Regions from separate parts of the Homo sapiens genome. Here region 2 is linked to region 1. The links come from fine-mapping of genetic effects on gene expression. A gene starts in region 1. The other region holds a variant in brackets. All regions are shown on one strand. Distances are from middle to middle. Region 1 holds the start of LRIF1 (ligand dependent nuclear receptor interacting factor 1). Region 2 has its middle 43 kb from the start of LRIF1.

Evidence for each region. PIP is the estimated chance that this variant, and not a neighbour inherited with it, causes the effect. A credible set is the group of variants that fine-mapping cannot tell apart.
Region 2: its variant is the best candidate, but not a certain one, in a credible set for the expression of LRIF1 in whole blood (INTERVAL, PIP 0.55).

Annotation. Positions count from the first base shown.
Region 1 is chr1:110,961,340-110,966,339 of GRCh38, forward strand. LRIF1 (ligand dependent nuclear receptor interacting factor 1) reads right to left here and starts at 2,583. Exons shown (of 4, transcript NM_018372.4): 1 at 2,282-2,583. The coding sequence starts at 2,349. RefSeq lists enhancers at 2,171-2,707, 2,242-2,451.
Region 2 is chr1:110,917,763-110,923,197 of GRCh38, forward strand. It overlaps a transcript of LRIF1 not described here. Among named protein-coding and RNA genes, the nearest start is that of LRIF1, 43 kb to the right of the region's middle. The variant C/T (reference allele first, on the strand shown) is at 2,884.

The DNA of each region.
Region 1 (5,000 bases):
TGTTTAAACTGTATTGATAGTAAGTGGTAAGCTAGGATATGAACCCAAGTCTCTATGACTTAAAAGGTTCTTTCCACTATAGCGTTCTGACTCCTGCTTTATTCTTCGACAATAAAACCCAAATCAATATAAATTAAATGCATACCATCACAAATATCTTCCAGATTTTTCCTTTGTACTCTAAGATTAAATTTGGGTTTTACATGTGATGTTCTGATGAATTAAGAGATACTTCAAACAATATACAACAATATACAATTCTGTATTATGCTACTGAAAAATTTTAAATAAGCAGTAACAGGAAATATTTAAGCTACAAACAATAAGAAAATCATAGTCATTTAAGTTATAAAAATAAATGATTTAGTACCATCAAACATGTTACCAGAAAAATAAGAAAACTAAGTTTCCAATAAACTACAAGGGCCGTTAATATTATTTACAAAATTATATTTGGATGTTTTATTACTTACAGAACAGAATGGAATCAAATACGCAACCATTAACCAAAGTAAATGTCGAAGCTTCAGAAAGTCATCTGGTAAATGTCCCAAATATATGATGTAAAACCTCAATGATTTAAATAAATACATTCAAAAATAATAAAAACAATGCATAAATCAATGAGTTAATGAACTCAAAATGACTTATGAATGTAATTTGTAATTTAAAAATCTCCAAATCCCCAAAAGGATTAGAAACTGGATAACAGAGTTAAGGGTACACACACACACACACACACACACACACACACACAAAGTAAAGTTGTTTATCTTACTTTTTGTATTTAAAAATGCAATCCTAAAACAAATTTTCTATAAATTAAGCTAAGTCAGAAGTCAGTAAGTATTCAGGTACTAAAATAAGGCTGCAGAAATTAATCATTTAAAAAGTAATTCTACTTTCTCATATGTACACAGGGCACTCTCTGCCCCTTCCCCCAAACTTCCACCACAAAATTAAAAAAAAGAAAAAAGAAAAAAACACACAAGTACACCAAAAAATGGCTCTTTTTATGATTTGAAATACAATGGTTCTATCTTGACAGTTCAACAGAATTTTGGCTCATTACTATTAGTGACCATTTCCTTTTATAATATTGCTTTTAAGGACTCACCATTACTTACGGTCTTTATTGCAATGGAGTTTTCTACTTGCAATTAAAGAAAACTACCTGCTGGGCTAAAATCTGTACAGAATTAAAGTTGTATGCTTATAATAGTAATAGTTAACATTTAAATTGTGCTTTACTATTTTCCTACACGACGTATTTTACATTATTTCATTCTCCTAATCTTTAAAATATTTCTAAGTGCTATTATTTACAGACTGGAAACAGGTACCTGGCCTCACAAATGCTAACTAGCAAAGTTGAGATTAACCCCAGGTAGCTTGATTTTCTTCAAACGAAAATCCTCTTCCATGAGTTTTGCATCTTAGTTCTTCATTTTCTTATTAGAGTCTGCAGACCCTATTTTTTCCTCATCACTTAATCTACTAACCATGTGAGAGTACAAGTGAAAATATTCTGCTTTAGCTAACATTGTTTCCAATTCATTTCCTTGTAATACAATTTAAAAAAAAAAACCCAAAAACTAAGTTACTGATCATCTATTTTCTAACTTTACAAGAATATCTTCCTTAGAAATACTGGACTCTCCTCATGCCAAATATAAATAGCCAATGAAATGGCACTTCATTACACCCTACTTCAAAAAGGCTGTTCAAAAGGACTGACTTTACACGAGGATTTCTCCAGTCTTACTTCTCTCTCTTCACATAAAACTATTACTTGAAATTTTAAATATTCGATCTCCTCATTCTAAAGCCCTTTTTCTTCAATCACACACCCTTTCTGTCTCACTATTAAAATCTATTTTCACTGAAGGTCCAGCGCCACCAGGGCTGCACTTGCTAATCCGTGCTGACTGCTGCGTTTCTGCGTGTGCGTGAGAATCTTCCAGAAGGTTTGAGTCACATAAGAGCGTCGGCCATCTTGGTTTTCATCTCCCGTGGAGATCTACTCGGTCCGCCTATTAAACTTGAGACGCTGGGGTCCCGCGGAGCCGCTGTGTCAGGCTCTAAAGAGGTTTTACATTTCCCAGAGGAAAGCGCTCTATGGGCTTTAAGCGCCGCGGAGACAAGCGCTTCCCGCCTGGGTGGCGCACTCTGCGGGCTCCAACTCCTCTCAACTACACAGCGTCCGGAAACGACGGCCGACTCCACATCCCTAAGACGGACAGAGGGGCAGCCGTGGGGAGGATTCGAAACCGGTACTTACCAACGCGAGGCGTTGCCTGAATTTTCCTCTGCGGGTTTCAGGAAGACCCTCCGTAGGTTATTTGACATTTTAGTGGGGAGAAAGGGGACACCTCATCCAGAAAAGTGGGAAGCGTGGGGCCGAGTTTCCCAATGGGGCGAGAACCAGAGCGAGGGAATGTTGGGCTGGAGTTGCCCACAGCAACTGTGAGGGGTTCGACCTTAACGGAGGGCGACAGCGGGCTCTCGAGAGGGTGTATCCCCAGGCTTCGGGACGAGGTCGCGCACCGCGCAGAAACCGGAAGGCTCCTGGCGGTGGACTGCGCCCTCACAGCCCTACGCTGAGAGAGAATCGGCGTGAGTCTCCGCCCTCAGAGCCTACGACAACTCTCCAGACTCCGCCGGAGCAGGCGCAGGGGGCGTGGCCTTGGTGGCACCACCCCCAACAGAGCCTGGTCAGTGCTGAAGACTGCGTCAGTCTGGCTCTGCCGCCCCGCCCACTGAAGCCGATAGCTGGAGCAAAGCTCGGTCGGGCGTCTTCCGGGGTCGTCACGTCCGGTTGCCAAGGTGACTGGCTCGCTAAAGCCCAACCCTTATGATGCAATCCAATGGCAAGTGATATTTGCTATCTTTTCTTCCGGATCAAGGAACAAATCGCAAAAGAAAGCTCTCCCGACACCTACGCAAAATAAAATGTTTCCGGGGTCAATCATAAATTTTCTGCTTCTGTGCTCGCCGCTAGCGTACGTTTTTCTCTCCCGTCAGTGCATTAAAAGACATCGGCGCGCTTTTTTGGAGTCATGCACTTCTGGCCTGAGAAAACTTAAAACGCCTGCCTGTGGCCAGCGATTATTGTTGCTGCTTCTCTGAAGGTTTCCCATTTACTCCTCTTTCCTGAAGCTTTGCCTCTAGACTTACTTAACTCTTTCCTCCAGCCTACGTTCATCGAAACTATCACTTATTGTCATATAGACCTTTATTTCTGAAGGGAGATCTGGGAGTTGCATCAGAACATCCATTGTATTCATTAAATCATTTATTCAGCTGTCCATTGCAGTTGATGCTCTTTATCTCACACTATTTGAGAATTTTTCCTCGCAGCACTATTAATTAGTCCCTCATCTTGACGCCATTGGCAATATACTTTCCTGGTTTTGCTCCTACCTTTTTGTCTACACCTTCTCAATCTCTTTTGAAGATATCTCCCTTTTCAAGGGAGTTCCTTTCAGCTTGATCACTGATTCTCTTATGTTTTCAAACTGTCTTGTCTCGATTCGTGGTTTTATTCATGCTCCTGGATTGAATTACCACCTCCACCCATTATTTTACCACCAAACACATGTATGTCCTTGGCACTGATTTAAGTGTTTTACAAAATTAATTTACTCCTAACAGCTAATAAAATAATTATTATATGCAGATGAAGTAACTGATGCTCAGAGAGGGTGAACAAATTTTTAGAGGTCATAGAGCTTGTGAGTGATGGAGCCAGGCTCCAAATCCAGGTTGTCTGGCTAAACACACCATGTACTACTGCATTATGCTGCCGTGTGACTCATAAATTTATGTTCCCAGTTCTGATTTCTCTGAGATCTATACCTGGATGTTCAAGTGAATTGTTGAGATATCCTTTTTGCTATTTTAAAAGCCCCTTCAAATGAAACATGTTCAAAACCACACTTATGACTTGCTTCTCTTCCCCCCACTACACGTTTTCTTTTATCAGTGCTATCTCAGAAAGAAAGAAAGAAATAACTTCCTTCCATTAAAGTTGCCTAAATCCCAGTGTCATCCTTAACACTTTCCTTTTTTTATTCCAAAATATACAATTCACCAACTTTTGCAGATTTTATCTTCTAAATATCTTACAAGTCTGCTTTATATTTCTATTACTACTACTGTAGAGCAAGCTTACTTGGTCTAGTAAAGCTTTAACGGATACCCTCATATCCACTCCTTTTTTATTTATTTATTTTTTTAGAGGGAGTCTCACTCTGTCACCCAGGCTGGAGTGCAGTGGGCAATCTCAGCTCACTGCAAGCTCCGCCTCCTGGGTTCACGCCATTCTCCTGCCTCAGCCTCCTGAGTAGCTGGGACTACAGGCGCCCGCCACCACACCCAGCTAATTTTTTGTATTTTAATTAGAGATGGGGTTTCACTGTGTTAGCCAGGATGGACTCGATCTCCTGACCTCCTGATCTCCCCGCCTCAGCCTCCCAAAGTGATGGGATTACAGGCGTGAGCCTCATATCCACTCTTGTATTCCTGTAAATGCTGCAGCCAGAGATACCATATGGAAACACAAATCTGATGGTGTCATCTCACTGCATTAAAAAAAAAAATCAGTTTCCCCATTGCTCTTATGATAAGGATCAAAATCCTTGATTCTTTTCCTTTTTTTCTTTTTCTTTTTTCTTTTCTTTTTTTCTTTTTCTTTTTTAGACAGGGTCTCACTCTGTCACCCCAGACTGGAGTACAGTGGCGTGATTTCAGCTCACTGCAATCTCCATCTCCTGGATTCAAGCGATTCTCGTGCCTCAGTCTCCCGAGTAGCTGGGATTACAGGTGCGCACTACCACGCCTGGCTCATTTTTTGTATTTTTAATAGAGACAGGGTTTCACCATGTTGGCTAGGCTGGTGTCTAACTCCTGACCGCAAATGATCTGTCTGCCTTGGCCTCCAAACGTGCTGGGATTACAGGCATGAGCTACTGTGCCCAGCCAAAATCCTTGATTCTAAT
Region 2 (5,435 bases), 43 kb before region 1:
GTGATATAGGTAAGGGACTGGGATTAGTTTGAGATCTATAACTTGCAAAGAACAATATGAGAGAGGAAAATTATAGCACCATCTTATTCATAACATACAAATCCTAAACAAAATCCTAACAGAATTTGTTCAGCAACATATAAATGGTGTTTTATGCTCAAATAATTTTGTCTCAGAAATTAAAAACATTAGTTTTAAAATCATTAAATGTGATTTAATTCATTGATAGATTAAATATGTAAGATTATCTTAATATATCAAAATGCACTGAATGAAATTTAAAATTAAAAACTTTTAACAAAATTACTTTAAAAATTGACTTTCTTAAATTTATAAAAGGTATCTAAAAACACCTACCTCCCCTCCACTACACAAACATAAATACACACACATACAAAACCAAAAGAAATCCTAAACTCTGCAACAAACACCTTGCTTAATGATGAGGTGCCGAACATTCCCTTTGAGACTGATGTCAAGATAAGATTGTGTGCTGTCACTAATACTCAGCACTGTCCTGAAGATCAGGACTGTGTAGTAAGACAGGAACAAAAAATAAGAATGGAAAGGGAGAAATAATATTGTTATTACTCATAGATGATAATGATTTTATTTTATAGTCAATCCATTATTACTAATAGACAAAACATTTAAAAATGTATCATAGTTGATAAAGATATATCAAATCCAAAGATTAATTAAACGTTATGTATAAATGACAAAGAATTATAAAATGAAAGAAAAAAACTCAGGAGATTTAGTTTTCTGATAATTGTGATGAGGTTATTTGGATATACTATCTCACTGAAAATAATAGAAATGAGGGATAAAATATTTGTAAAATCACCTTAGAAGAATGGACAACTTGAAGAGACAGTGAGAAAACTCCAAGGCCAATTTTATGAGAAAGATAGGCAAAACATCAGCACCCAAAAATGTATTGAGCATTTAGAGACCTCACACACTTGGGCTTTGGTTCAGAGTCTTCATGGTACAGAAGTCAGAGGAAGAACTTCCCCAGGCAAGGAGTCTTACAGGAGATCTTCTCCACACATTACACTGGACACTAAAGAACTACACACTCAGATTAAGAGCCAACCAGAAGAAAAACCACTCCCTCCACCCAGTTGGAAGGAGTTTCTCTGCCAGCAAACAGAGCATAATATTTAGGGAATATAAAACTGGACATAAGAAGTGGGGGCCACGGCCTGGCCCTCCAGTTTACACCTGAGTTAGACATAGCTTAGGTCAGCCAAAAAATTGCTGGCTATACATTTACTTTGAGGTGGTTTCTTATGAGTGGTACCTACAAGTACCTGACAAAGTAAATGGCACAACAGAGTGAAACTAGAAAACCAAAGTCAATGAGAAAAATCCTTAAAACATCTGTGATGGTTAATACTGAGTGTCAACTTGATTGGATTGAAGGATGCAAAGTATTGTTCCTGGGTGTGTCTGTGAGGGTGTTGCCAAAGGAGATTAACACTTGAGTCACTGGGCTGGGGAAGGCAGACCCACCTTTAATCTGGTGGGCACAATCTAATCAGCTGCCAGCGAATATAAAGCTGGCAGAAAAACTCGAAAAGGTGTGACTGGCCTAGTCTTCCAGCCTGCATCTTTCTCCTGTGCTGGATGCTTCCTGCCCTCAAACATCGGACTCCTAGTTCTTCAGTTTTGAAGTTTGGACTCTCTTGCTCCTCAAGCTTGCAGACAGCCTATTGTGGGAACTTGTGATCGTGTAAGTTAATACTTATTAAACTCCCCTTTATATCTATCTATCTATCCTATTAGTTCCGTCCCTCTAGGGAACCCTAACTAATACAACCTCCAAACAAAAAAAAGATTATCTTCCAAAAAGTGGTAAATTGGCTAAACTTTTCTGGAGGCTAAAATCAGTAGTATGATAACTTCAAAGCTAAAGAAAAATAACTGCCAAATTAGAATTCTATGCTCAATGAAAATGTCTTTCAAAATGAAAATAATAAAAAGAGAATTAGAAGGCAAGCCACAGACTAGGAGAAAATATTTGCAGGCACATCTGACAAAGGGTCGTTATCCAAAATAACCCAAGAACTCTTAAAACTGAACAATAAGAAAATGAGCCACCTAATTAAAACTTAGGCAAAAGATCTGAACAGGCATCTCATCAAAGAAGATATACAGATGACAAATAAACATATAAAAAGATGTTCAACATCATATGTCATTAGGAAATTGCAAACTAAGACAATGAGATATAATACATATCCAATAGAATGGCCCAAATCCAAAATGCAGACACCATCAAATGCTTGGAGGATGTGAAACAACCAGAAGTCTCTCATTCACTAGTGGCTGGTGGTAATAAAAAAGTACACCCACTTTGGAATATAGTCTTGCAAAACTGAGCATGCTCTTACCGCATGATCCAGCAATCATGCTCTCTTTGGTGTTTACCCAAAAGAATTGAAAACCTATGTTCATACAGAAACCTGCATATAGATGTTTATAACAACTTTATTAATAATTGCCAAAACTTGAGAGCAACTAAGACATACTTCAGTAGATGAATGGACAAACTGTGGTACATCCAGACAATAGAATATTATTCAATGCTAAAAAAAATTACCAAGCTACAAAAAGACATGAAGGAACCCTAAATGCATATTACTAAGTGAAATAAGCCAATGTGAAGGCTACCTAATGTATGATTCCAGCTATGAGACATTCTGGAAAAGGCAAAACAATGGTGACAATAAAAGGATCAGTAGTTACCAGGGGTTAAGTGGGGAGGGAGAAATAAATAGGCAGAGCACAGAGGATTTTTTATGGCAGTGAGATTATTTCTTATAATACTACAATGGTAGATACGTGTCATTATAACATTTGTCAAAACCCATAGAA[C/T]GTACAACACCAAAAGTGAATCTTAAACTCTGGACTTTGGGGTGATAACGATGTGTTAGTGCAAATTCATTGATTGTAACAAATACACCACTATGATGGGGGCTGTCGATAGTGGAAGAAGCGGTACATGCGGTGGGGAAAAGGCATATATAGAAAATTCGTACTTTCCACTCCGTTTTGCTGTGAACCTAAAACTGCTCTAATAAATAAAGTGTATTAATTTAAAAGGTTGAAGTGAAATAAAAACAATTTGAGACAAGTGGGAGAATTTACGACCAGCAAAATCTAGTTAGGAGAAATTCTAAAAGATATACTTCAGGCAAAGGGAAAGTGGTCCTAGGGAGAATGTCTAAGATGCAAGAATAAATGAAGAGAGGGAAAAAAGTGGGCAAGTACAAATGAACATGACTTTCCAAAACCAGAATCATGTTTATGAAGTTTAAAATATACTTAAAAGGTCTACTCAAATTCCCAGACAATAACATTTGAATTGTGAGGTGTGTATATGAAGTTAAAGTGTTCTAAAAGCTTTGTATCATCTGGTAGGTGAGTAAAGGTTTTAATTAAGTTACGAATTTGGTAGTTAAGTGTTCATGTTTTCAATGCTTGGGTTACCAGTGAAGTGCAGAAATAGTATGAATAACTTCTAAACTAATAGAAAAAAAATGAAATGATTAAAAAGGAAAACATATTCAGTCAAAAAATATCAAGAAAGGACTTTTCTGTTGGGACTAATAAACAATAAAAAATAAAATGGAAATGTGAATCCAAATATTTCAATGGAAACACCAAATGTAAAACAATTAAAGGTCCAACTTTTTTAAAAATCATAAAATTGAATAAAAACAAAATTTAACTAATACAACAAAAAAGCATTATTAAAATCAGGCAAAATAATAGTTTAAGGAAAATAACATTATTATAAGTGAAAGACCACTTCAAGTCACCAAAATAATAGCAATTTAAAAAATGTTATATGTCAAATTATATAGTCTCAAAATTTATAAAGGCAATGACTGACAGAACCATAGAGAGAAATAGACAAGTAGATAATTATAGTGGGATATGTCTAGCAAACTTTTTTTCAGTGATAGTGCTATGGTTTAGACGTGCCTCCTAAAGTTCATGTGTTAGAAACTTAAGACTCAAGACAACAGTGATGAGAGGTGGTACCTTTTTTAAAAAAAGCTTTTATTTTAGTTTCAGGGGTATATGTGAAGGTTTGGTATACAAACTTGTGTTATGAGGGTTTGTTGTACAGATTATGCCATCACCCAGGTGTTAAGCCCAGTACTCAATATTATCTTTTCTGCTCCTCTCCCTCCTCCCACCCTACAACCTTATGTAGACCTCAGTGTCTGTTGTTCCTTTCTTTATGTTTATGACTTGTCATCATTTAGCTCCCACTTATAAGTGAGAACATGTGGTATTTGGTTTTGAGTTCCTGTGTTAGTTTGCTAAGGAAAAGGATAAACCTCCTGCTCTATCCATGTCCCGGCAAAAAATATGATCTTGTTCTTTTTTATGGCTGCATAGTATTCTATGATGTATATGTAGAGAGGTAGTACCTTTAAGAGATGATTAGGATTTGAGGGTTCTGCCCTCATGAATTGATTAATGCCATTATTGGGGAAGTTAAATCATTATTGTGGGAGTGGATTCCTTACAAAGGATGAGTTCAGCCTTCTTCCCTCTCTCATATCAGTGCCTTCTGCAATGTTATGATGCAGCAAGAAGGCCCTCACCACATGTTGGGGCTTTGATCATGGACTTCTCAGCCTCCAGAACTGTGGGGAAATACATTTCTGTTTTTAGAAATTACCTAGTTTCAGATATTCTGTTATAGCAGCACAAAACAAAAACAGGTAAATAGAATAAGTAGATGTAAAAAAAAATCAGTAAAGATAGAGAAGATTTAGGAAACGTGATTAATAAAATTGTCCTAACAAACCCATATATAAAGTTATCCGTCCAATATGAATAATACAAATTGTTTTCAAATAAACACACATTGTAGTTGTTTTCTATTGCTACTGTAACAAATTACCACAAACTTAATGGCTTAAAACAACACAGATTTGTTCTCTCATAGTTCTGGATATCAGATGCCCAGAATGAGTTTTAAAAGGTTAAAGTCAAAGTCTCAGCATTTCTGTTCATTCTGCATGCATTAAGGGAGAATCTATTCTTTGCCTCTTTCAGCTTCTAGAGGCTATGGCATTCCTTGGGTCTTGGCCACATCACTCCAGACTCTGCTTCCATCGTAACATTGCCTTATCTCCTCCATAGTCAAAGCTCTCCTTCTCTTCCTCTTGTGATTACATTGGACCCACCTGGATAATCCAGGATAACTTCCACACCTCAAGAACTCTAACTTGGCCAGGTAGGGTGGCTCACACCTGTAATACCAGCACTTTGGGAGGCTGAGGCGGGCGGATTGTCTGAGTTCAGGAATTCCAGACCAGCTAACATGGTGAAACCCCATCTCTACTAAAAATATAAAAATTAGCCGGGTGTGGTGGTGCACACCTGTAGCCCCAGCTACTCTGGAG